Homo sapiens: one gene and its partners. The protein of the gene in region 1 interacts with the protein of each later gene in a pairwise test. Each region holds a gene or a part of one and is shown on either strand. Other genes may lie near its edges.

Region 1 (3,500 bases):
ACCCATCTCTCTGAATCTGAGAGCCTTCCAGAACACTGTCTTTCAGGCCCTTCATCCCAGGTCCAAGTGGACACAACCGAAAAGCAGGAGGAAGAAGCAGGAGAGGTTGAAAAGGGAGTAGATGCCAGTGACAGCACTGCTCACACAGCCCAACCTGGACACCAACTAGGCAAGAAGAAGAAGAAGAAAGGAGTTAGCTGTAATTGTACCTGTCCTCTCCCCTGTCCTGTTCTCACTACTATTCACTGTCCTTGACTTGCCCCAGGAGGAGGAGACTGGGTTACTCTTGGACATGGCCCCTTCTCTTAGTTTTAGGGCCTTCTCACTTCCCCCTGGTTACTCATCCTCTCCCATCCTAGGTAACACAGCCCGCCCAGTGTTCCCTGCTAGGCAGACAGAGCTGGTGGAAGTGGCTAAGGCAATGCATAGAGAGGAGTTTGGTGCTCAAGTGAACAATCTTTTCCAGTGGGAGAAGGATGCAGCCCTGAATGCCATCCAGACAGGTGAGCCCATGTGGCCTTTCAGAGGCCTGTGACAGGCCCATGGGCATCCTCTAATCCAAAAGATCTGGGAACCTGAACATTCAGCAGATAGCTTCCCCTTTTGGAAATGGCTATACCACCTGCCTGGAAAAGGAGCAGGCAAGTGGGCCAAGGAATACAAGGGTGGATGCAGACAAAAAGTGGGGAGATTCATATAAAGCCCAGGTAGAGACAGGTAGCTGAACTAAAATTATTAAACACAGAAGGGTCGGCTGGGCGCGGTGGCTCACGCCTGTAATCCCAGCACTTTGGGAGGCCGAGATGGGCGGATCACGAGGTCAGGAGATCGAGACTGTCCTGGGTAACACGATGAAACCCCGTCTCTACTGAAAATACAAAAAATTAGCCGGGCGTGGTGGCAGGTGCCTGTAGTCCCAGCTACTCGGGAGGCTGAGGCAGGAGAATGGCGTGAACCCGGGAGGTGGAGCTTGCAGTGAGCCGAGATTGCGCCACTGCACTCCAGCCTGGGCAACAGAGCGAGACTCCGTCTCAAAAAAAAAAAAAAACCAAAAAACAAAAAACAAAAAAAAACAGAAGGGTCATGGCCCACCCCAGATATAGGGCCCAGAGAGCCTACAGACCCTAAAGCAGAGATGGCCCAGGACCCTGGACAGTCCCCAGGAGACTTGCTGTTCTGACATGACAAAGACCTTAGTCCCTTTGGTGGAACTCCATTAAAAGGCTGTCACCCCTGCATGCCAGGCCCATGCTGGGTACCCAAAAGCTTTGAGTTCTGTTACCAAAGGGGAGACCTGTGTCCTCTGGCCCTGCTGTTTCCAAGCCTCAGCCTGTGATTAGTACTCTTGACAGTCCTGTTAGTGGCATGCTGCGTACAGATGAACTTGCAAAAACATGCCATCCTATGCATGAGCATGCCTACCTGTGTTATGGAAATTCATGTCTATAGGGATTACCTTCAGTAAGAGGGCCACCCTGACCTGCTATAAGGATTCTGGTCTTTCTAGACTGAATTCAATAGATGTTATGACATTTATTTTGGTCCTTCATACTTCCTTTCCCTTTATGATGGGAATAGAGCTACGATGACAGGCCTAAAACATAAAGACAAGCAGGTAATTCTAAATGCTTATCCCTCCTCCATGAAATTTACTTTCCCCTTTCCCATGCAGGGACCCTCCACCTCCCCACCCTTGCCCTCCCGCCCCACCACCAACTTTGTTTGCTTATGTTAACATATTCGGTTACTCTTATTTTCTTGCAAATTCTGGCTGGCAAGGTGGCTCACATCTGTAATCCCAAAACTTTGGGAGGCTGAGGCAGGAGGATCACTTAATTGCCCAGGAGTTAGACAGTGAGGACAAGACAGTGAGACCCTATCTCTACAAAAATAAAATAAAATAATCCAGACATAGTGGTGCACACCTGTGGCCCCAGCTACTTAGTAGGCTGAGGTGGGCAGATTACTTGAGCCCAGGAGGTCAAGGCTGCAGTGAGCCGTGATTGTGCCAGTGTATTCCAGCCTGGGTGACAGAATGTCTCAAAAAAAAAAATGCAGGATGTGTTCAGTCCTCTTATTCCCCTACTCAGAACCTCCTGTCTACTCCCTACTCCTCAAGCCCACTGTATTTCTTTTTCTTCTTCAAATTGAACTTCTTCATCTTCCTGTTTAAACAGGAAGTTTTATAAAGAAATTCATGTCATTCAACCCCGAACAATTATATTTGAGGTCCCCTCCTAATAGTGGGGATGTTGAGTCCTGGGTAGTCCATAACAGTATATGTGATGTGTACAGAAATATCAAGTGTAACCTTTGTTTTTATTCATTCGACAAACATTTATTGAGCACCAACTATGTGCCAGGCATTGAGCTAGCTATGGAAGTGGTAATGCTGATGGGGGTTCAAAGACAAAATACTTGGCACTCTAATGAGAGATACCAATAAGTACAAGGACAATTATAATTCACTCTAATAATTGCTATAATCAAGGTTATCCTAGACTGCTGCATGAGCAGAAAAAAAAGGGGCATCTTATCTGGAGTGCTTGAGGAATAGTAAGCCTTGGAAGGAATGACTTCTCAGCTGATATCTGTAAGATGAGTAAGAAGAGGTGGCCAAGTAAAGAGTGCTGTAAGATGAGACATGACAGGGCAAGGCACAGCAGGAATCTATAGCAATGCACTATGCCTGATGCATAGAGTGGTGGGGAGAAGAGCCCACTCTGCTCTAGAAGGGCAGAATTGTGCAGGAATTTCTGTGCCAAGTTAAAAGCTAGAATTATATCCTGAGGGCAACTGAGAGTCACTAGAAGGTTTTAAGTAGGACAATAACATGAACGAATTTCTGTTTCTGCAAGATCACTCTGGCAATAGGGTAGACTGGAGAAAGACAAGACTGGAGTTGTGAGGCTAAGAGAGGAGGTATGGAAAGGCAAGTGAATACATTGTGAGGCACTGGTCATAACCAGGAAAGAAGTAGATGGGCTTAGGTGGAGAGAAGTGGACAGGTTCAAGAAATGCTAACAGGCCGAGCGCAGCGGCTACCACCTGTAATCCCAGCACTTTGGGAGGCCAAGGGGTGGATCACCTGAGGCTAGGAGCTCGAGACCAGCCTGGACAACATGGTGAAACCCCGTCTCTATTAAAAATACAAAAAATTAGCCGGGTGTGGTGGCGGACACCTGTAATCCCAGCTACTTGGGAGGCTGAGGCAGGAGAATTGCTTGAACCCAGGAGGTGGAGGTTGCAGTGAGCCGAGGTTGCACCACTGCACTCCAGCCTAGGCAACAGAGCGAGACTCTGTCAAAAAAGAAAGAAAAGAAACAAGAAAAGTAGGGAAAAGAAAAGAAAAGCTAACAAAGTGAAACTGACCATTGGAACAGTGGATGTATAGGATAAGAGAGAGGGAAATGCCTGGAGTGCCACCAGTTTTTGGCATAAGTAAGTGGTAGGATAATGGTGCCATTAACTGAATGCCTAGAAAAGGGTAGATGCTTGGT
Region 2 (4,297 bases), on another chromosome or scaffold:
AAATCACTTAATTAATTAATTAATTCATAGACATCTAGAAGCCCTGCACTGTGCTTAACACTACAGAGATTTAAAAAAAAAGTACAAGGTCAATCCTTGCCCCCATGCTTACAGTCTCCCTGGGAAAATAGGGCTGAAACACAAGACAATCAGAAGACGTCAGTTAATTGGAGGCCAAGAAATCTACCAATAGTCACTGCCTTGGGCATTCAGAGCTGGGAGGGCACAGCAGGGCTGGAGCAGGGGCCAGACTTCGGGGGAAGGCCTGGCCAGGACTGGGCCCTTAGAGGCAGTGGGGTGGGCCTGTGGTTTGGAGCTGCAAGGCCTGGGCTTTAGCCTCCCTGGGAAGCCTGTGTGGACCTTGGGTAAGCCATTTTCTACTCTGACCATTGTCTCCTTCTGTAGGAGTCAGCACCTTTCTATCCACGACTGTGTTGGAGGGTGTGTGTGAGGCCTTAAAGAAGATAGCATGCCTTGAACAGTTGTACAGATGCTTTTTCAGCTGTGATCTGGGACAGGCTCCTGAAACAGTCCAAGCCTCCTCTATTTAATGGGCTATTGGTGATGCCAATCTCATGAGTTTGTGTGAGGACTGAATAAGAGAATGCATAGAGACAGATCAGCGTGGGGGCTGGTGGGTACTAAATGCTCAGTGAATGATGGTTGCTACCATCAGCCGGGTTATTGATAGGGCTGTGTGAAAAGAGCTCCAATTCAGGCAGCCAGAAGGAAGGGCTTCTCCATTTCTCAACCAGGGCTGGGGAAGACATGCCCTCCTAGATGTCATCATGGGCAGGTGTCCAATTAACTGATCTCTAGGCATTGTGGCTAGAACTTAGGCTCTACAACCTGCACAGACTTCCTGGCAAGGGAAAGAGTAGGGAAGTGTCCATCAGGGCTCTGCAGTATCTAGGGTGATAAGCTGTCCCATTTTACCGAGGACTGAGGTTTCCCTGGCATATGGAACTTTCGGAACTAAAGCCAGAAAATTCCTGGGGAAACCAAGAAAATTGGTCACCTTAGCCATATTTTCTGGGCCAATTCAAGAGCCTTCTGTGTCTCCCTGGCTGCAAGACCCCTGCCTTCCTGCACCAACCAAGTTTACCCTTCCATCTTCTGGGAGCACCCCAGAGACCTCCTCTACTCCCTCAGGCCAATAAAAGAAGTCAAAGTTGGAGAAAGTCAAGACAGTGGCTGAACTCCCATGCTTGCTTAATGCGGAGGCTGAGGTCTGGGCTCAAATGACAGGTCCCTTTGAAGAACTGACAGGGACTTGGTCTTCCCAGTGATGTGGGGTGGTGGAGATGAGTCTTGACATAGTAATGGGGCTCCTATTTTATGAGACTGGTAAATTTTCACAGGAAACTAAATAACAGGTTAATGAGGGGTTTTAATAGAAAGTGGTGTTAACTTTAATGAGGAGAAAACACTTTGTAAAGGCCAACCAATGCCCACTGGGGCAGAGATATAAATCTGGGGTAAGGAGCTGCTTCTCTGCTTTGGGGTGTCTGGCCTCAGAGACCTATCAATTGCATCTGAGTTGCAGGGGCCATGGCTTCCAAATGCCTCAAGGCCGGCTTCTCTTCTGGGTCTCTCAAGAGCCCAGGAGGGGCCAGTGGGGGCTCCACTCGTGTGTCCGCAATGTACTCCAGCAGCTCTTGCAAGCTTCCAAGTCTCTCCCCTGTGGCCAGAAGTTTCTCTGCCTGCTCAGTGGGTCTGGGCAGAAGCAGCTACAGGGCCACCAGCTGCCTCCCTGCTCTCTGCCTCCCTGCTGGAGGCTTCGCTACCAGCTACAGTGGGGGTGGGGGCTGGTTTGGGGAGGGCATCCTCACTGGCAATGAGAAGGAGACCATGCAATCCCTGAACGACCGCCTGGCCGGCTACCTGGAGAAGGTGCGTCAGCTGGAGCAGGAGAACGCCAGCCTGGAGAGCCGCATCCGTGAGTGGTGTGAGCAGCAGGTCCCCTACATGTGCCCTGACTACCAGTCCTACTTCCGGACCATCGAGGAGCTCCAGAAGAAGGTAAGAGGTTCAGAGTGGCTTTGGATTCCCAGGAACTTTGTGTCACCAGCATTCATTGGTAGTTCTGTTCCCATAGGGCATGTTGGAAGTCACCAAGCATGTTCATCTCTGTGGCCTCATTTGCTCCTCCCAATAACCTTAAGAGGGAGGTATCATTAGCCCATTATACAGTTGAGAACACTGAGATTCAGGCTGGGTAAGCGACCCAGATGGCAGTTACTGGAGCCAGAGCTTGAACATCAGGTCTATGAATGAACTCTGTGACCTTTGGTGGTATTGCCCAATCCTCTGAGTCTTCTGAGTTTTCATTTCCTCTTTTATTTAAAGTCAGGGGATTGGGTTTGATGTATTTAGTGCAGTGCAGTTCAGGCTTCCCATAAGTAACTCAGGGAAGAAAATGCCTGTCAGAGAAGTTTCTTTCTTGCCAAGGGCCCATATCCACTTCTCGCCTGGCCCAAAGTTATAGCTGGCTCCTGTGAGGGACCATTTATGACCAGAGAATCCCGGGGTATGTTGTTGGCAATGAAATGCCCTGGGCCCCCAGTAGGCCTGGGAGACAGGGAGATTGGAAGAAGCCTCATTTCATCATGCCAGGCCTTTCCTGTTGCATTTTCATGCAGCTATCTAACCTGAGTAACAGGTCACAGATACACTGCACTGGAAGAAACCCTGGACTTTCCATAGTTGATCCCTAGAGCCTGCCCATAACACTCCAATGCACATGGAGTAGCAGAGGTCTAGGATGGGTGACTTCCTCCTTCCAGAGTCAGCCCTTGTCAGCTTTAGGGAGCTCCAACAAGTGGAATGTCCTTTCTTGCAATGAAATAACTTCTTCATATCTCCAGACTCTATGCAGCAAGGCTGAGAATGCCAGGCTGGTGGTGGAGATTGACAATGCCAAATTGGCTGCAGATGACTTCAGGACCAAGTGAGTTGTCCTGCTTGTCATGTGGTTGGGGGCTGCTAGAACTGGACACAGGTGATGCCTGAGCTCAGGGTTTTGGCTGTACTCTGTCATTGGGGCATAAAAGCAGGACTCACAGCACCTGGACAGTCTGAGGGCAGGCCTGACTTAGATGCAAAAAGGAAATGCAGACTCAGGTGCCCTGTTCTATGCCTGCAGGTATGAGACGGAGGTGTCCCTGCGGCAGCTGGTGGAGTCAGACATCAACGGCCTGCGCAGGATCCTGGATGACCTGACCCTGTGCAAGTCTGACCTGGAGGCCCAGGTGGAGTCCCTGAAGGAGGAGCTGCTCTGCCTGAAGAAGAACCATGAGGAGGTGAGCATGGGGGAAAAGGTGAACACGGCACAGCAGGTGAGCATGGGGGAGGAGGTGAACATGGGGAGGAGGTGAGCATTGGGGATGAGGTGAGCATAGGGGGAGGTGAACATGAGGGAGCAGGTGTGCATAGGGAAGAGGAGGTGAGCATGGGGAGCAGGTGAGCATAGAGAGCAGGTGAGCATGCAGAGGAGGTGAGCATGGGGAGGAGGTGGGCATGGGGAGCAGATGAGCATGGGGAGGAGGTGAGCATTAGGAGGGGTGAGCATGGGGAGGAGGTGAACATGAGGAGGAGGTGAACCTTGGAGGCAGCCCTCTGGGAATTAGTACTCATCCTGGTCTGTGCTATAGGAAGTGAACTCACTGCGCTGCCAACTTGGTGACCGCCTCAATGTTGAGGTGGACGCTGCCCCACCTGTTGACCTGAACCGAGTTCTGGAGGAGATGAGGTGCCAGTATGAAACCCTGGTGGAGAATAACCGCCGGGATGCTGAAGACTGGTTGGACACCCAGGTAGGTACCTGGAAACAGTCAGTGCAACAGGGGTATGTGGTGGCTCACATGGAAGTGACCCTGGGGCTCTGAATCAAGAAATCTAACTTTGAGTCCCATCTCTGTTTTGACCTTGCTGACAAGGTCAAAACAGACCCACTTCAATTGACCTTGCTGACAAGGTCAAAACAGACCCACTTGGGCAGGTTGCTGTCCTCTGAGCAACAATGCCCTCCAGTATAAAATAAATGAGTGGGACTGGGGAATCGGGAATGTCTTTCTTGGCTCATGATTCTAACCGGCCTCTGTAGCTCTCTGAAGCCAAGTCCCTGGTGTGGCTGACCAGGTTCTGTGTGTGTATGTTTCAGAGTGAGGAGCTGAACCAGCAGGTGGTGTCCAGCTCAGAGCAGTTGCAGTCCTGCCAGGCAGAGATCATCGAGCTGAGACGCACGGTCAACGCCCTGGAGATTGAGCTGCAGGCTCAGCACAGCATGGTGAGCCCC
Region 3 (2,719 bases), on another chromosome or scaffold:
AGAGCCCCACAGCCCAGGGCACTACAGCGAATGACCAGGCTCAGGAAGACCCGGTCACAGGGGCTGAGCCGGGACTGAGCCTTCCTGGGAGTGACCGTGAGTCCCACCTGGTGACCCCCTGGAGGAGTTAGGCCACTGTCCCTTGTGACTTCTAGGTTAAGTAACTCACTCCTAGAAACGGTCATGGCTGGAGGAGACCAATGTCAGCTCAAAACCGTGTGTCCTCCCAGGAGAACAACAGGAAAAGAGAATCAGGTGACCAAGGAGAGTTTATTGGGGAGTAGGAGGAGGTGCTGAGAGGTTCAAGTCGAGGCCAAGTGACCCAGAGCAGAGAAGCTGGGAGGGAGGACAGGGGACCCAGCAGGCAGGTGGGCACCTGCTGGAAGGCAAGAGCTGGGGAGCAGTGAGGATGGAGGCTCCTGGGAGTAAGGAGGGAGAGGTCACCTCAGCACAGGGGAGACATGGAGACCCCATCCCAGGTAGGGGCAGCCACTTAACCCAGGACAGGACCGGAGCCGGCTGGCCCTGGGGGACGTGCCCATCAGCAGCTGGACTCCTGGCCTGAGCAGAGGCCTCAGCAGGCCAGGCGGGAGCACGCGGGGCGGCAGAGGAAGGACAGGCAGGAGGCCGGGTGGCAGCAGCTGGGCTGGCAGGAGGAGGCAGGGACACAACAGGAGGGGACAGGCACACAGCAGGCAGGCCGGCACACAGGGCGGCAGAGGAGGGACACGGAGGAGGAGGGTCTGCAGCAGGAGGTGGTGCAGCAAGCCGGCTGGCAGCTAGACTTCTGGCAGCACAGAGAGGAAGCCCCAGAGCAGACAGGCACACAGCAGATGGGCTTGCAGCAGATGGGCACACAGCAGGCCTGTTGGCATGGGGAGAAGGTGCAGCAAGCTGACTGGCAGCTAGACTGCTGGCAGCATGGGGAGGAAGCTCCAGAGCAGATGGACACGCAGCACACGGGCTTGCAGCAGTTGGACTTGCAGCACACAGGCACACAGCAGGCCTGTTGGCAGGGGGAGGAGGTGCAGCAAGCCGGCTGGCAGCTAGACTGCTGGCAGCATGAAGGTGTGCAGGAGTCGGTGCAGCCTGATTGGCAGGGGCTGGGCTCACAGCTCACTGGGGCACAGACCAGGGCCAGGCAGGGGGCTGGGGCACAGCAGCTAGGGGTACAGCAGCTGGAGGCACAGGAGCGGGGCTCGCAGCAGCTTTCCTGGCAATTGTCCACCTGCCAGGAGGAGCCAGTGCAGGTGCTGGGGGAGGAGACTCGGCTGACATGGCCCACGTCACTGGAGCAGACAGACATGGTGGATGCAGCAATCACATACGTCCTGGTGCAGCAGGCGTCAGCCATGGTGGGTGCTGGACTGGGTGGTGTGAGTGCTGGTGTGAGGTGTGTGGGTTTGTGTGCCCTGGCTGCTGAGGTTTTATACCCTCCCTGGGTATTTTCCTCACAGGAGTCTCACAAGCCTTCCCTTTCCTTGTTGTGGCTGAGACTTTGCCTCCAGGCAACCCTAATTAGTTTACTTGCTGTGGGATGTTACTGTGGTCCCAGGACTGCTGCATGTGGTTGGGTGATGCTGACCACTTGCAGGTGTCTGTGCCCTGCAACCACACACAGTGATGCTGCGTGTCTGCTGGTGGAGCTGGGAGTTGAACAGATCGTGAGTTGGCAAGTCTGGAAAACCCAGCCCCACTTTCCTCCTGTCTTTGCCTGTATGTCTTTGCTATTGGGGTATTTGGTACCAGGGGTGGGGTGTTTTTTTACCAGCAGATGTTCTCCACCTGTCCCAGAGTTCTGCTCCATTGAACAATGGGTGTCTCGGCTAGGAATGCCCCCTGGCTCCCCACCCTGCCACCCCTACCTGTTCCATCTGCAAACTATGGTGCGATGCCCCTGTATTAGTCCATTTTCACACTGCTGATAGAGACATACCCAAGACTGAGAGGAAAAAGGGCTTTAATTGGACTTACAGTTCCACATGGCTGGGGAGGCCGCAGAATCTTGGTGGGAGCTGACAGGCACTTCTTACATGGTGACAGCAAGAGAAAATGAGGAAGAAGCAAAAGCAGAAGCCCCTGATAAACCCATCAGATCTTGTGAGACTTATTCACTACCACTAGAATAGCACAGGAAAAGACCGGCCCCCATGATTCAATTATCTCCCCCTGGGTTCCTCCCACAACATGTAGGAATGCTGGGAGATGAAATTCAAGTCGAGATTTGGGTAAGGACACAGCCAAACCATATCATTCTGTCCCTGGCCCTTCCAAATCTTATGTCTTCACATTTCAAAACCAGTCATGCCTTCCCAACAGTCCCCCAAAGTCTTAACTCATTTCAGCATTAACCCAAAAGTCCACAGTCCAAAGTTTCATCTGAGACAAGACAAGTCTCTTCCACCTATGAGCCTGTAAAATCAAAAACAAGCTAGTTTCTTCCTAGATAAAATAGGGGTACAGGTATTGGGTAAATACAGCCATTCCAAATGGCAGAAATTGGCCAAAACAAAGGGATTTTACAGGGCCCATGCAAGTCCAAAATCCAGCAGGGGAGTCAAATTTTAAAGCTCCAAAATGATCTCGTTTGACTCCAGGTCTCACATCCAGGTCATAATGATGCAAGAGGTGGGTTCCCATGGTCTCGGACAGCTCCACCCCTGTGGCTTTGCAGGGTACAGCCTCCCTCCTGGCTGCTTTCATGGGCTGGTGTTGAGTG
Region 4 (3,500 bases), on another chromosome or scaffold:
AGGCCCTTGTGATTTCTCTGGGGAAAAGGAGGACTGGAGTTGATCATTTATTGAGGCCATCAGAAGCGGATGGCTAATTACATATGGGACATGTGTTAATAATGCTTTGTGTATATAGAGTGGCCTTTACTTTCAAAACACTCTTCTCCAATTTATCATGTTAAAAGCTAGGAATTGGGCTGGGTGCAGTGGCTCACGCCTATAATCCCAGCACTTTGGGAGGCCAAGGCGGGTGGATCATTTGAGGTCAGGAGTTTGAGACCAGTCTGACCAACATGGTTAAACTCCGTCTCTACTAAAAATACAAAATTAGCCAGGCGTGGTGGCACACACCTGTAGTCCCAACAACTACTTGTGAGGCTGAGGCAGGAAAATCATTTGAACCCAGGATCAGAGGTTGTGGTGAACTGAGATTGCACCATTGCACTCCAGCCTGGGCAACAAGAGCAAAACTCTATCTCAAAAAAAATAAAAAATAGCCAGGCACGGTGGCTCATGCCTGTAATCCTAGCACTTTGGGAGGCAGAGGTGGGCAGATCACCTGAGGTTAGGAGTTCGAGACTAGCCTGGCCAACATGGTGAAACCCCATCTCTACTACAAATACAAAAATTAGCTAGGCATGGTGGCAGCCACCTGTAATCCCAGCTACTTGGGAGGCTGAGGCAGGAGAATCGCTTGAACCCGGGAGGTGGAGGTTGCAGTGAGCCAAGATCGGGTCACAGCACTCCAGCCTAGGCAACAGAGCGAGACTCCATCTCAAAAAAACATAAATAAATAAAAATAAAAATAAATAATAAATAAAAGCTAAGAATCAAAGAAGCAGTTTATTCCTAATTTCACAGTCTCATCTGTTCATAGTGGGGCCAGGATTAGAGTCAGTGGCCAAGCTTCCATCCTGGGTTCTTTCCCTTCCCAGGCCCTACCATCATAGTATACCAGGGAAAGACCTGGAGAAGCCAGCAGGTTGACCACCGAACCAAGGCTGGGCCACCTTCCTCCTGGGTCTGGTCTCCAGCCTCCCAGTTGTACCCTTCCCCCAGCCCTTCCTGGATGCACTGATCAGCCTGTGCTTCCTTGCCCTGTTTTTCTTTATAAATAGAGCCATGTTCTCCTCTCTCTCTCTCTCTTTTTTTTTTTTTTTTTTTTGAGATGGAGTCTTACTCTGTCACCCAGGCTGGAGTGCAATGGCACGATCTCAGCTCACTGCAACCTCTGTCTCCCAGGTTCAAGCAATTCTCCTGCCTCAGCCTCCCGAGTAGCTGGGATTACAGGTGCCCACCACCATGCCCAGCTACTTTTTGGATTTTTAGTAGAGACAGGGTTTCACCATGTTGGTCAGGCTGGTCTTGAACTCCTGACCTTAGGTGTTCTGCCCGCCTCAGCCTCCCAAAGTGCTGGGATTACAGGCGTGAGCCACCACGCCTGGCAAGACGTGTTCTCTCTATGTTGTTGAGGCTGGTCTTGAACTCCTGGCTGCAAGAGATCTTCCTGCCTCAGCCTCCCAATGTGCTGGGATTATAGGCATGAGCCACCACACTTAGCCCAGCCTGTGCTTTCTTAAATGAAAATCTAAGCATACGGCTGGGTGTGGTGGCTCACGCCTGTAATCCCAGCATTTTGGGAGGCCAAGGTGGGCAGATCACGAGGTCAGGAGATCGAGACTATCCTGGCCAACATGGTGAAACCCTGTCTCTACTAAAGATACAAAAATTAGCTGGGTGTGGTGGCCCATGTCTGTAGTCCCAGCTACTCGGGAGACTGAGGCAGGAGAATGGCATGAACCTGGGAGGCAGAGCTTGCAGTGAGCTGAGATCGCGCCACTGCTCTCCAGCCTAGGTGACAGAGCGAGACTCCATCTCAAAAAAAAAATAAAAATAAAAAAAAGAAAATCTAAGCGTGGTGCTCCCCTGCTCAAACATCCTCAGGTTCTTTTCATGGCAGATAAGGGCATCTCTTCATGAGCCAGCCCCTGCCTACTGACCCAGCCACCTCTCCCATCCCTTCCCACCCCGTACTTCAGGCTTCAGCAGTACTGATCTTTCCAAAGACCCCAGAACACACATGCCTTCATACCTCTGTGCCTGTACATGCTTGTTTCTGCCCTTGAAATCATGACAGTAGCTCTCTGTAGGCCCCGCTAGCCTGTCCCTTGGGTCTTAGCCTCTTGGAGGCCTTCCCAGAGCCCCCCAAAAGTACCCCAGGCATACTTTGGTTCCTTCTCTCATGTCCCCTCAGTACTTTGCACATACCTCCTTTATAGCAGTTGCTATGTTGTGCCAGAGAAGGGAGTCCTGTGGCTGGGGGGCATATATCTTTTCTTTTTGAGACAGAGTCTAGCTGTGTCACCCAGGCTGGAGTGCAGTAGTGCGATCTCGGCTCACTGCAACCTCCACCTCCTGGATTCAAGCGATTCTTGTGCCTCAGCCTCCTGAGTAGCTGGGACTACAGGCGTGTGCCACCATCATGCCTGGCTACTTTTTTGTATTAGATATATATTTTCTCTCTTAGCACAGTACCTACCAAGAGTGAGTGAGTAGATGTCCTGACCCCTGCAGGCATCCAAGGCCCTCCTTCCCTGGACCTGTTTCCACATGTGTGAAGGGGTGCACAGGCAGCAGCCCACCTCTCAGCTTCCTTCCAGTTCTTGTGTTCTGTGACCCCTTTTCCTCATCTCTGCCTGCTTCCTCACAGCTTGAGGCAGCCCTAGGTGAGGCCAAGAAGCAACTTCAGGATGAGATGCTGCGGCGGGTGGATGCTGAGAACAGGCTGCAGACCATGAAGGAGGAACTGGACTTCCAGAAGAACATCTACAGTGAGGTGGGGACTGTGCTTTGCAAGCCAGAGGGCTGGGGCTGGGTGATGACAGACTTGGGCTGGGCTAGGGGGGACCAGCTGTGTGCAGAGCTCGCCTTCCTGAGTCCCTTGCCCTAGTGGACAGGGAGTTGGGGGTGGCCAGCACTCAGCTCCCAGGTTAAAGTGGGGCTGGTAGTGGCTCATGGAGTAGGGCTGGGCAGGGAGCCCCGCCCCTGGGTCTTGGCCTCCCAGGAACTAATTCTGATTTTGGTTTCTGTGTCCTTCCTCCAACCCTTCCAGGAGCTGCGTGAGACCAAGCGCCGTCATGAGACCCGACTGGTGGAGATTGACAATGGGAAGCAGCGTGAGTTTGAGAGCCGGCTGGCGGATGCGCTGCAGGAACTGCGGGCCCAGCATGAGGACCAGGTGGAGCAGTATAAGAAGGAGCTGGAGAAGACTTATTCTGCCAAGGTGCTTGCTCTCGATTGGTTCCCTCACTGCCTCTGCCCTTGGCAGCCCTACCCTTACCCACGCTGGGCTATGCCTTCTGGGGATCAGGCAGATGGTGGCAGGGAGCTCAGGGTGGCCCAGGACCTGGGGCTGTAGCAGTGATGCCCAACTCAGGCCTGTGCCTCCACCCCTCCCAGTCACCACAGTCCTAACCCTTTGTCCTCCCCTCCAGCTGGACAATGCCAGGCAGTCTGCT
Region 5 (2,763 bases), on another chromosome or scaffold:
GTTCCAGCTGCAGCAGGAGAAGCGGCAATTGCAGGACGACTTCGCACAGCTGCTGCAGGAGCGCGAACAGCTGGAGCGGCGCTGCGCCACCTTGGAGCGGGAGCAGCGGGAGCTCGGGCCGAGGCTTGAGGAGACCAAGTGGGAGGTGGGCCAGACCAGGAGGGGCAGGGAGCAGGGTCACACAGGGAGAAACCCTGGAAAAAGGGGCCCAGCCCCACCCTCCCTCAGCCTGCCACCCCCAGAGGTCCTCCCCTTTCTCACCTCCGTGAGATGAGGTTCCCCTCTGTCCCTTTCTGGGAGGGGGGTCTCCTTGTTGGCCTTGTCTAGTGGCACGTAGCCACGCTTCCAGCCAGTAGTAAGAATGTGGTGCTTGTGGTGTGGAGGCACTATTCTAAGCATGTTACATGGAACAGATCATTTCATCCTTATAACAACACTGAGGGGGCTACCATTAGTCTCCCCATTTTAGAGATGAGTAAACTGAGGCCCATAAAGGCTGAAGCCCCAAATCTGAACCCAGGCAGTCTGGCTCCAATATCTGAGCTCTTAACTAGGTCACTGTAGTACCTCTCCAGCAGGCACCTGGGCACTGCCCTCCATTGTCCCCACTCCTGCAGCACTTGCCAGGACCCAGTCCCCAGTCCCCAGTCCCCAGGGCTTGGTGGTACTTGCAGTGTCTTGTGATGCTTTGAAGACACCAGCTTTGAAGCAAAAAGTTCTAGGTCTGCTTTCCACTTAAGCCCCATCTTAACTGTATGACCTTGGACATGTCACTAGACTTGCTTTAGTGTCTCCATCTGTAAAATGGGGATAAAGATGGACTCTTCTCTCCCAAATGCCCAGCATGATGTGCAGGGCCTGTCCCCCCAGGAGAACCTGTCTCACCATCCTTCCCCACTTCCTCCCACCCCCAGGTGTGCCAGAAATCAGGCGAGATCTCCCTGCTGAAGCAGCAGCTGAAAGAGTCTCAGGCAGAGCTGGTGCAGAAGGGCAGCGAGCTGGTGGCTCTGCGGGTGGCGCTGCGGGAGGCCCGTGCTACGCTGCGGGTCAGTGAGGGCCGTGCGCGGGGTCTACAGGAGGCCGCCCGAGCTCGGGAGCTGGAGCTGGAAGCCTGTTCCCAGGAGCTGCAGCGACACCGCCAGGAAGCTGAGCAGCTGCGGGAGAAAGCTGGGCAGTTGGATGCTGAGGCGGCCGGACTCCGGGAGCCCCCTGTGCCACCTGCCACCGCTGACCCATTCCTCCTGGCAGAGAGTGATGAGGCCAAAGTGCAGCGGGCAGCAGCCGGGGTTGGGGGCAGCTTGCGGGCCCAGGTGGAGCGATTGCGGGTGGAGCTGCAGCGGGAGCGGCGGCGGGGTGAGGAGCAGCGGGACAGCTTTGAGGGGGAGCGGCTGGCCTGGCAGGCAGAGAAGGAGCAGGTGATCCGCTACCAGAAGCAGCTGCAGCACAACTACATCCAGATGTACCGGCGCAACCGGCAGCTAGAGCAGGAGCTGCAGCAGCTCAGCCTGGAGCTGGAGGCCCGGGAGCTCGCTGACCTGGGCCTGGCCGAGCAGGCCCCCTGCATCTGCCTGGAGGAGATCACTGCTACTGAGATCTAGGGCCCTCAGCAACCAGCTCTGTAGGGAGCTCTGCCAGAGGGGCAGCAGCTGCAGATCCACTTAGGCCCCAGGGTCCACGGATGGCCCCAAAGGCTGAGGGCCCCAAAGCCACTTGTCTCCTAGGATCCAGGCCTCTGGGCTTCTGCCAAGAACTCAGGGTGGCCCTATGACTTGGAGGAGCAAGATCAGACCGCTCAAAGGTCCCCGTGTTCACTGTTACCCAGAGGCTCTTGTTACTACCCACTTCATTCCCCACCGCTGCCAGTGCCACTGCCAACCCTGTTCACAGGCGCTTCCAGCCCACTCCAGCCAGGGGAGCAGGGAAGAAGAAGGGGCTCCCTCCTCTTCACATTCCCCCCGACCCCAAAGCCAGAGAAAGCCAGATGGCACCAGCTGCTCCGGATGTGCCTGCCCACATTGGGGGACAGGGCCGGGCCTGGGCTCGGTTCCCAGGTTTGAGCTCTGCAGCCTCTCTCCTGGAGTGAGGGGGCTGAAGTCAGACCAAAGGAAGAACTCAGAAATGTCTTGTTTATTTGTGTTTGTGACCAAGCAGCCTCTCCCTTCACCCAGGTTTATGGCCTCGTTTTCACTTGTATATTTTTCACACTGTAAATTTCTTGTACAAACCCAAAGAAAAAATTAAAAAAAATTTTTTTGTTTAAAAATAATGTGAATGTGCTGGATAAAGAGTACAGGAACTTGTTTGACCCCCCCCCCCCCACCATTTGCTGGCTATTCTCCTCCCCCTCATAGAGCTCTCTTGGGGAGAAAAGGTGATGGAGGAAGGACAAATCCAGTAGAATGTCTGAGGTCTTAGTGGACCCCAACGTGAAATGATCTCTCAGGATTTCAGGGACTAGAAAAGCCTTTCATCCGTTTCCTTGCACAGAATGCTGCTTGGGGTTGAGGAATGGATGCATTGACCCCTTCAGGGCCCTGTCTGAGAGTCTGTGTCCCTGGAGGCTTGGGCGACTCATAAGGGACAGCATGTGAGAAAGTGCCCACCAATCCCAAGCTCCAGACCTTGGCTTTCTCACCCCCTATCCTGGCTTGGGAGGTTGGGGAGCAGTGAGTGCAGGTGACACAGGCTGCCCACTAGCACCTTGTCCTTGGACACTAAGGCAGAGCCTTAATGACAGCTGAGGAGGGAAGAAAGTGGAAAGAT
Region 6 (3,977 bases), on another chromosome or scaffold:
AGGAGCGCAGGAATACGCATTGCCCTGGGGAGGCGGCCAGGTTCTAACCGTCTCACACCTAGTCACTACACTTTACAGATTGGGAAAGCCAAGCCCAGAGGCTGAAGACGCCTATGGAGGTCACACGGCCAGAAATTGACAACGGAGTATGAGCCAGGCCGTCTGTTTCTCTGTGCTATGAGTCCCATACTGTATTTTCAAAGGTCAAGAGGAAAGGGTCTTAAGCTGAAGTGACGGTCCCGCTGCCAGGAGCCGCTTCACTGAGGGTGAAACAATGTAGCCAAGTGCGGGTCACCTGCGCTGTGGCAGAAGGGACCGAGGACGGTGTGGCCAGAGGACTGGCCTGGGCGGAGAGCGAGGAGGGGGAGCCCACAGCTTCTGGGGGGCAGTGACAGTGCGGGGAAGGGCGAGGTGCAGTGTTGGATGTTTTCGCGGGGATTCTGGGACCAGTGGGAAAGCTGGAGGACAGGCGGCTCTGAAGCACCGAGGAGGGGCCTCGGAAGGGGCGGGGAGGTCTCCTTGACACAGGTGAGGAGACGGAGAACTGGGGGCACCCGGCAGCCCAGGCTTCCTGCCGCGCTCTCACGCCCTCCAGGGCCATGAGACCCTGGCTCCGAGGTGGCGGGCAGGTTCGGGACCCGAGCGCGGCGGGATCGTGCGGTTGCCGGTGGTGCTGGGCCCCATGGAGGCTGCGGTCCAGGAGTTTCGGGTGGGCGGCTAGGCCGAGCTTCTGCAGGCGTGCTGAGCCGCCGCAGTAGGGCCCCAGAGGGGACGAGGAATTAGGCCCAGCCGAACGAGGGGGAGCCACCAGAGGCTGGGCCGGGAGGCACCGCCGCGCTCTGGGGAGCTGCCAGGGTCGGGGCGCCCTCCGAGCGGCTGCCAGGCCCCGCGGGCGGCGGCGAGGCGGCCCTCCGCCCCTTCCCCGCAGGTCGCCCTGCCAGCTTGAGCGGCGGGCGCGGGTGGGGCAGGAGGACGCGGGGCGGGGTGGGGGGCACAGGGGGCCCTCTCTGCAGCGCCCCCGGCCCCCGCGCGCGGAGGCAGGGCCGCCGCAGTCGAGGATTAGCGCGTTCGCGGCCGGCGCTGCGGGATTAACCCGCGTGGACTGGACGCCCGGCCCGGGGATTACTGCGCGCTCCCTCCCCGACGTATATATTCCCGCGGCGGCGGCGCCCCGGCCGGGCCGGGCATGGCGGCAGCGGCTGGGGGCGCGGCGAGCCGCCGGGGTGCCGGGCGGCCCTGCCCCTTCTCCATCGAGCACATCCTCTCCAGCCTGCCCGAGCGGAGCCTCCCGGCCCGGGCCGCCTGCCCACCGCAGCCCGCCGGTCGCCAGAGCCCCGCGAAGCCAGAGGAGCCCGGGGCGCCCGAGGCTGCGCCCTGCGCCTGCTGCTGCTGCTGCGGCCCCCGCGCGGCGCCCTGCGGGCCCCCAGAGGCGGCCGCCGGGCTGGGTGAGTGGGCGCGGAGCGGGGCGCGGGGCCCGGCGGAGCCCGGGGCGCGGCGCAGTGGGTGCCGAGCTTGGCCCCAGCCCCGCGCCTCACCGCGCCCTCGCTCCGCAGGCGCTCGTCTGGCGTGGCCGCTGAGGCTGGGACCGGCGGTGCCCTTGTCTCTGGGTGCGCCAGCCGGAGGTTCCGGGGCGCTCCCGGGCGCGGTCGGCCCGGGTTCGCAGCGGCGCACGAGGCGCCACCGCACCATCTTCAGCGAAGAGCAGCTGCAGGCGCTCGAGGCGCTTTTCGTGCAGAACCAGTATCCTGACGTGAGTACGCGCGAGCGCCTGGCCGGCCGCATCCGCCTTCGCGAGGAGCGCGTGGAGGTGAGTGCCCCGCCCAGCCTTTCCCCGGAGCGCGCGGGCCGCGGCTACACTGGACTGGGGTCCTGGCGGGCGGGCGCCCTTTGCAAAGACGGCCTCGGCCCAAGCCCCGCCCTGGCGCGCCGGAGGGAGGAGGTCCCTGGACGGCGCTGGGCGTCCGGGGGTATGAGGAGCGGGTGAGAGCAGGGAGGTGCCGCGGGAAAGGAACCGGAGGGCTACTTTTCTTTTCTTTTGTTTTACACTTTCCTCTGGTGACGAAAGAGGCCCGCGTTCACGTCCAGAATTTGGGAAATTCAGAAGAGCCCGCAACCCAAGAAGGGGCGTCCTGGTCGCCGCCAGCTGGAGGCTGGGGCGGGTACTAAGGGGGTTCCCATCTCGCGTCCAGACCCACCGAGTCTGTCCGCAGCGAATAAGGGCAGGTGGCGCGCAGCCGCGGCCCGGGTGTCGGCTCTACAGCGCCGTCCGCCCACATCCCTGTTGCGAAGCTCCCCTCTCGGTCCCTGTGGGACCCTCGGGAGCCGGTGGGACGCAGGACCTGGGGCTAGGGCTGAGCATTCCCCCCATCCCCAGGTCTGGTTCAAGAACCGCCGGGCCAAATGGCGACACCAGAAGCGCGCGTCGGCTTCCGCGAGGCTCCTGCCCGGCGTCAAGAAGTCCCCGAAGGGGAGCTGCTGATGACTCTAGGAGCTGCCCCTGGGCTCGGCCACCCTTTTTGGGATCTTTGGAGTTGGCGCTGAGAGAAGACAGGTCTACCCGAAAAGGAGCTGGGAGAGTACACCGGCCGCCTCCACCCGTCTCCACAGCCCTTGCCTCCTGCAGCTCGTGCTGCCGTGGCGCTGGGGACGGGCCCCCGGTGCTTGGTGTTCCACGGCAGTGGGAGTGGCGAGTCCCTTGGGGGTGGGCTGGGGCATAGAGCAGTTTCCTCAGCTCCCTACCCCCCGAGAGACACTAACTCCACCGCAGGAGGGGAACCACCCCGTATCAACACGGGACCCAGAATCCTACGCAGTGGAGCGTCTCTCCGCACCCTGGGACATGCTGGCCACCCTCTTCTCAATGTGGACATTGACCTAACTTGACCTGGCTCGTCCTCCCCCAGCGGGAGAGGGGATGGGGTTCGTGTCTGTGCAGTCCTGGCGTTGCAGGCTTCCCAGGCCCTGGGCTGGGTCTTGGTATCTGGACCTGTAGAATAAGAAGGTCGCAGGAGCGATTCCAGGAGCCCCTCCACAGTCCCTTCACCTTCGAGCCTCGCGCTGATACTGAGAAACTAGCAACTTCAAATACCACAGAAGCCGCCCAGAGTCTCAAGTCCACCTTGGCTCCACTCCCACACCCAACAAGGAGCTGTCCCTTCTTCTTCCTTCCCAGCGAGGGGGTATTTAGGGTACAGCTGTCTTTGAGAGGAGCACAGCTCAGCGATCCTCAGTCTCTGCACCAGGGTGCTCCCCAGCAGAGGGGACTGCTCCACGGATGGTGGCCTTGGACCCCTGGGGTCCAGCCCTGGCCTCTAGGCTACTGTGAACCTGCCCATGGGTGAGGGTCCCCTGCTTCCTCCTGGGGTTTTCATGCTGTGGGCTCGGACTCCCTCACAGCAATCTGTGCCATCCTAGGGTAGGGCAAGAGGAGGTTGGACTGGGGAGACCCCGCCCCTGCTGCCTGGGAAGATGCCTGCCCTCCCCTTCTTTATCCTGGCCCATGGCAAAAGGCACAGTGGAAAGAAGCCTTAGATTCCCCAAGTAGGCCCTACAGTGGGTCCAAAGCATCTCACATCCCCACCCCCAGCTGGCTTGAGCACCTCGTTCTGTCTCCTTACAGGCCCTGCAGGGAATGGGGCCATTCTACCTGCAAGAGATGAAGTCCATCTCTAAAAGCAGGACTGCAGAAGCCAGGGCTGCAGCTCCCCAGACACCCCAAGGCTGGCCAGCTTGGATAACACCAAGCAAGCATGGTGTCCCCAGTCAGAACTGCCCTGACACTGCTGGGTGTCCCTAGCATCCCCGCCTCCACCCCTAGCATGCACACAAAGCCCTTCTCCCTGAACCCTGGTCTTGCCCTTGGGGACTGAACAGACTACCTGTGGACATGCCCGTGTCCCAGTCAGCTCCCTTGCAGCTGGGGACACTCGCATCTCACAGGCTCCAGGCCCCTTGAGTTCCTTGGTTGAATGGCCATC
Region 7 (3,500 bases), on another chromosome or scaffold:
TATTTAATCCACCATTGATGGACACCTAGGTTGATTCCATGTCTTTGCTATTGTGAATAGTGCTTGAACTTATTTTTAAAACTACTTTTTCTGTGAGTGTTGGGAGGCTCTAAACAATAGATGCCATTTGAAGACAAGATTAGGGTAGATCACATTGAAATTTTATTTGAGAGTTAATAGTTGAAAATATTAATTTTGTAAAATAGAAGAGGGGGCTAATTCAGTAATATTTTCATGTATTAAAAATTAATTTGGTGTTATTATTATATATTAAAAAACTAGAATCAAACTGTTTTTATGTCTTCCCCTTTTTAACAATTCCAATTTAGCATTGTTTTACAAAATACTGCTTTTCCCACTGTTTATGAATATAGTATAAATGTTGCAGTAATTTATGACACTACCATTTACTTCCCCTTGAATTCTAGAACTTAATCGTGAATTGTTGTTGTTGTTGCAAAATGGTTGTAACAAATATTTAATAGTAAATCTGTGTAAAATGCTTTAGCAAAGTGCCGACTCAAAAAAGCTCTGGATACATGTAAATTATTTTCTTTTTTTGAGACAGAGTTTTACTCTTGCTGCCTAGGCTGGAGTGCAATGGCATGATCTCGGCTCACTGCAACCTCTGCCTCCCAGGTTGAAGTGATTCTCCTGGCTCAGCCTCTCGAGTAGCTGAGATTACAGGTTCCCACCACCACGCCCGGCTAATTTTTGTATTTTAGTGGAGACGGGTTTCACTATGTTGGTCAGGATGGTCTTGAACTCCTGACCTCAGTTGATCCACCCGCCTCAGCCTCCCACAGGGCTGGGATTACAGGCGTGAGCCACTGTGCCTGGCGGTTAATTCTTTTCTAATACACATAGAGTCATCAAAGTATAGGAAGCAAAAGTCTTGAGAGAATTTCACTGCATTGCCTATAAACGGGCAGGACTGAACCTTAGTCACATTTTTGGTTATTTCTGAATTAATAAAACTTACTACCAAGAATTATTATATTCAGTGGTATGCTGATAAAAGGTTTAACAATCAGCTTTCAAGAGGGGACACAAGTCAATGATTTATAGCATTTACATACCTCTACCATGGCTGCTTTTACTCAACATGCCATCATTGCATATAGCATTGGGAAGAAATGAGCAGCAGTGTGGCATTATATAGTATTTCCACCGTACAGATATGACAGACATAAACTACCTCAAGAACCTAGGTAATTGTAAAAATATAGTAAAATAATTAGGAACTGATGAGTTTTGTGTATTTATTATTTTATTTTTAATGCAATTTATTTCATTGTAGAGTTATATATTCTAGCTTTTAACAATGGCTTCCAAAATTCTTGAAAATTTAATATCTGGCTCTTGGGAGCCAGTATAAGCAGACTCTAGCAGACCTCCCCTCCAAAAGTATAAATTAGAGATTCCTAGTCCATGATCTGTGAATGAGTTCCTTGGGAAGTGCATAAAGCCTAAAAGATTTCTGAGGAGAAGTATTGGTTGAGTACCTAATGTTTGTCTGCCACTGTAGTTTAAGGATTTGGCAAACAGACAAAGACCAGCTCATGCAGGGCCTAGTAGGTCATAGTAAGAATTTTAGTCTTGAAAGCATTGAAAAGACATTGAAACTAGGGAGTGGTCCAGTAAAGTTGCTATTTTTTTTTAAGAAAAATTATTACTCTACCTGCAGAGTAGTGCAATTACTATTAGTAATTCACTACTACTAGTAATATCTGAGGGGATCATCAGCAGTGCATGGAAGAGATGTGCAAGTGATAATGGTGATTGGAAAAGAGTGGAGGTAATGAAAATACAACCTTTCACCAAATACCAGCTGAGCATTTATTATGTGTCATGTGCTACTATGGGTTTCATTTGAATTATTTTTAATTCTTTTCCTCCTGTTTTCTTATAGGGGATTCTTAAAATAATTAAGGTGTGTAGTTCTAGTCTTTTTATTAGATTAATTGCAAAGATCACTAATATATCCACTTTTGTTTTATTTGACAACTAACATATATTAAAAGCATACTGTGAATATGATGAAAGACAGGCCCAGGAACGAAAGACTGAAGAGACCTTATAACTGTCCTGGAATGGATCCTATACTGGAAGGATTTTTAAAATGCTCTAAAAGGTGTTATTAGTATAGTAGGCAAAAGTGGAACGTGGTCTATGGAACATGGTCTATAGATTAAAGTTCTGTGTTGGTTTTAAATTTCCTGAATGAGATCACCATACTGTGATTACATAAGAGAATAGTATTGCACTTAGGAAATATACTCAAGTGTGTATTAAAGAGCAGTAGAACATAATATATGTAACTCCTTTGAAATAGTTCATAATAAAGTAAATTAAATGTTTATACATGGATATATGTGGAGAGAATGTTAAAAATTAATGTGATAAATCTGGATAAAGGGAAAACAGGAATTTTCTGTGTTATTCTTGTTACTTTTCTACAAATTTGAAATACTTTCAAAATAAAAAATTTAAAAACCAAGGGTATATTGCTTCATGCATTGCATGAAGCTCTTAACATGAATGCACATTCGGTCATTCCACTCTAAGCTCTGGGATATTTTAGTACTGCAATTTCTGTTTTACAGATGAGTAAACTAAGGCTTCAAAAGTTAGGTAACTCACTTAAATGCATATTTTGAAAAAGTGGCCAAGTGTATTTGTTTTACTGCTGTGACCATTAAATCCTTACACAAAATATAAATACGTCTTTTAAGAAGTTTAGGAAAATGACTTTATTTTGTTTTGTTTTGTTTTTGAGACAAAGTCTCACTGTGTTGCCCAGGTTGGAGTGCAGTGACGTGATCTCAACTCACTGCAACCTCCACCTCCTGGGCTCAGACGATTCTCCTGCCTCAGCCTCCTGAGTAGCTGGGATTACAGGCATGTACCTCCACACCCAGCTAATTTTTTATATTTTTAGTAGAGATGGGGTTTCACCATGTTGGCCACGCTGGTCTCAAACTCCTGATTTCAAGTGATCCGCCCGCCTCGGCCTCCCAAAGTGCTGGGATTACAGGTGTGAGCCACTGCCCCCAGCCAAAAATGACTTTAAAAAGTTAAATTTCTATTATTACCAACCCCCTGCCTGTTTCCTGGAAGTAATTCCTGATATATTCCTCCAGAAATTTTGTATGCAATGGGAGTGTATATATGTGTGTATTCTTAAAATGGGAGTATAATAAGCATCCTGTTTATAATGTGCATTTTTTTATTCCATCTTAATCTCTTTATTGAGTGACTTTGTGAAGTAGACCACTTTATTTAAAATACTAAAAATTATTCATTAAAAAGTAATAGCGTTGTATCACCTCAGTTTGTATTTATGAGCTACATTAGATGCATTTGATATATGTATATTAATTTTTGGTATTTGGCTTTTGTCAGGTGGTTTTGGAATGTATGCTTAAAAAAGACCTCATTTATAATAAGGTCACTCCAACATTTCACCACTGGAAGATTGATGACAAGAAGTTTGGTCT

Evidence for each region.
Region 2: the proteins of FAM221B (region 1) and KRT35 interact in binary tests that used the Homo sapiens proteins (3 or more experiments, as listed by UniProt).
Region 3: the proteins of FAM221B (region 1) and KRTAP10-8 interact in binary tests that used the Homo sapiens proteins (3 or more experiments, as listed by UniProt).
Region 4: the proteins of FAM221B (region 1) and LMNA interact in binary tests that used the Homo sapiens proteins (3 or more experiments, as listed by UniProt).
Region 5: the proteins of FAM221B (region 1) and LZTS2 interact in binary tests that used the Homo sapiens proteins (3 or more experiments, as listed by UniProt).
Region 6: the proteins of FAM221B (region 1) and GSC2 interact in binary tests that used the Homo sapiens proteins (3 or more experiments, as listed by UniProt).
Region 7: the proteins of FAM221B (region 1) and SPRED1 interact in binary tests that used the Homo sapiens proteins (3 or more experiments, as listed by UniProt).

Annotation. Positions count from the first base shown.
Region 1 is NC_000009.12:35,822,233-35,825,732, reverse strand, and holds part of FAM221B (protein FAM221B), read left to right. Parts: coding exon 1-169; coding exon of another isoform or gene 170-199; intron 200-359; coding exon 360-503; intron 504-3,500.
Region 2 is NC_000017.11:41,478,352-41,482,648, reverse strand, and holds the start of KRT35 (keratin, type I cuticular Ha5), read left to right. Parts: upstream 1-1,497; 5' UTR 1,498-1,551; coding exon 1,552-2,022; intron 2,023-2,867; coding exon 2,868-2,950; intron 2,951-3,145; coding exon 3,146-3,302; intron 3,303-3,653; coding exon 3,654-3,815; intron 3,816-4,162; coding exon 4,163-4,288; intron 4,289-4,297.
Region 3 is NC_000021.9:44,610,736-44,613,454, reverse strand, and holds KRTAP10-8 (keratin-associated protein 10-8), read right to left. Parts: upstream 1,377-2,719; 5' UTR 1,355-1,376; coding exon 575-1,354; 3' UTR 501-574; downstream 1-500. UniProt on the Homo sapiens protein: In the hair cortex, hair keratin intermediate filaments are embedded in an interfilamentous matrix, consisting of hair keratin-associated proteins (KRTAP), which are essential for the formation of a rigid and resistant hair shaft through their extensive disulfide bond cross-linking with abundant cysteine residues of hair keratins.
Region 4 is NC_000001.11:156,131,711-156,135,210, forward strand, and holds part of LMNA (lamin), read left to right. Parts: intron 1-2,692; coding exon 2,693-2,818; intron 2,819-3,094; coding exon 3,095-3,265; intron 3,266-3,476; coding exon 3,477-3,500.
Region 5 is NC_000010.11:101,005,571-101,008,333, forward strand, and holds the end of LZTS2 (leucine zipper putative tumor suppressor 2), read left to right. Parts: coding exon 1-145; intron 146-914; coding exon 915-1,598; 3' UTR 1,599-2,263; downstream 2,264-2,763. UniProt on the Homo sapiens protein: Negative regulator of katanin-mediated microtubule severing and release from the centrosome. Required for central spindle formation and the completion of cytokinesis.
Region 6 is NC_000022.11:19,147,493-19,151,469, reverse strand, and holds the start of GSC2 (homeobox protein goosecoid-2), read left to right. Parts: upstream 1-1,177; 5' UTR 1,178-1,186; coding exon 1,187-1,445; intron 1,446-1,553; coding exon 1,554-1,807; intron 1,808-2,374; coding exon 2,375-2,479; 3' UTR 2,480-3,977. UniProt on the Homo sapiens protein: May have a role in development. May regulate its own transcription. May bind the bicoid consensus sequence TAATCC.
Region 7 is NC_000015.10:38,318,836-38,322,335, forward strand, and holds part of SPRED1 (sprouty-related, EVH1 domain-containing protein 1), read left to right. Parts: intron 1-3,405; coding exon 3,406-3,500. UniProt on the Homo sapiens protein: Tyrosine kinase substrate that inhibits growth-factor-mediated activation of MAP kinase. Negatively regulates hematopoiesis of bone marrow.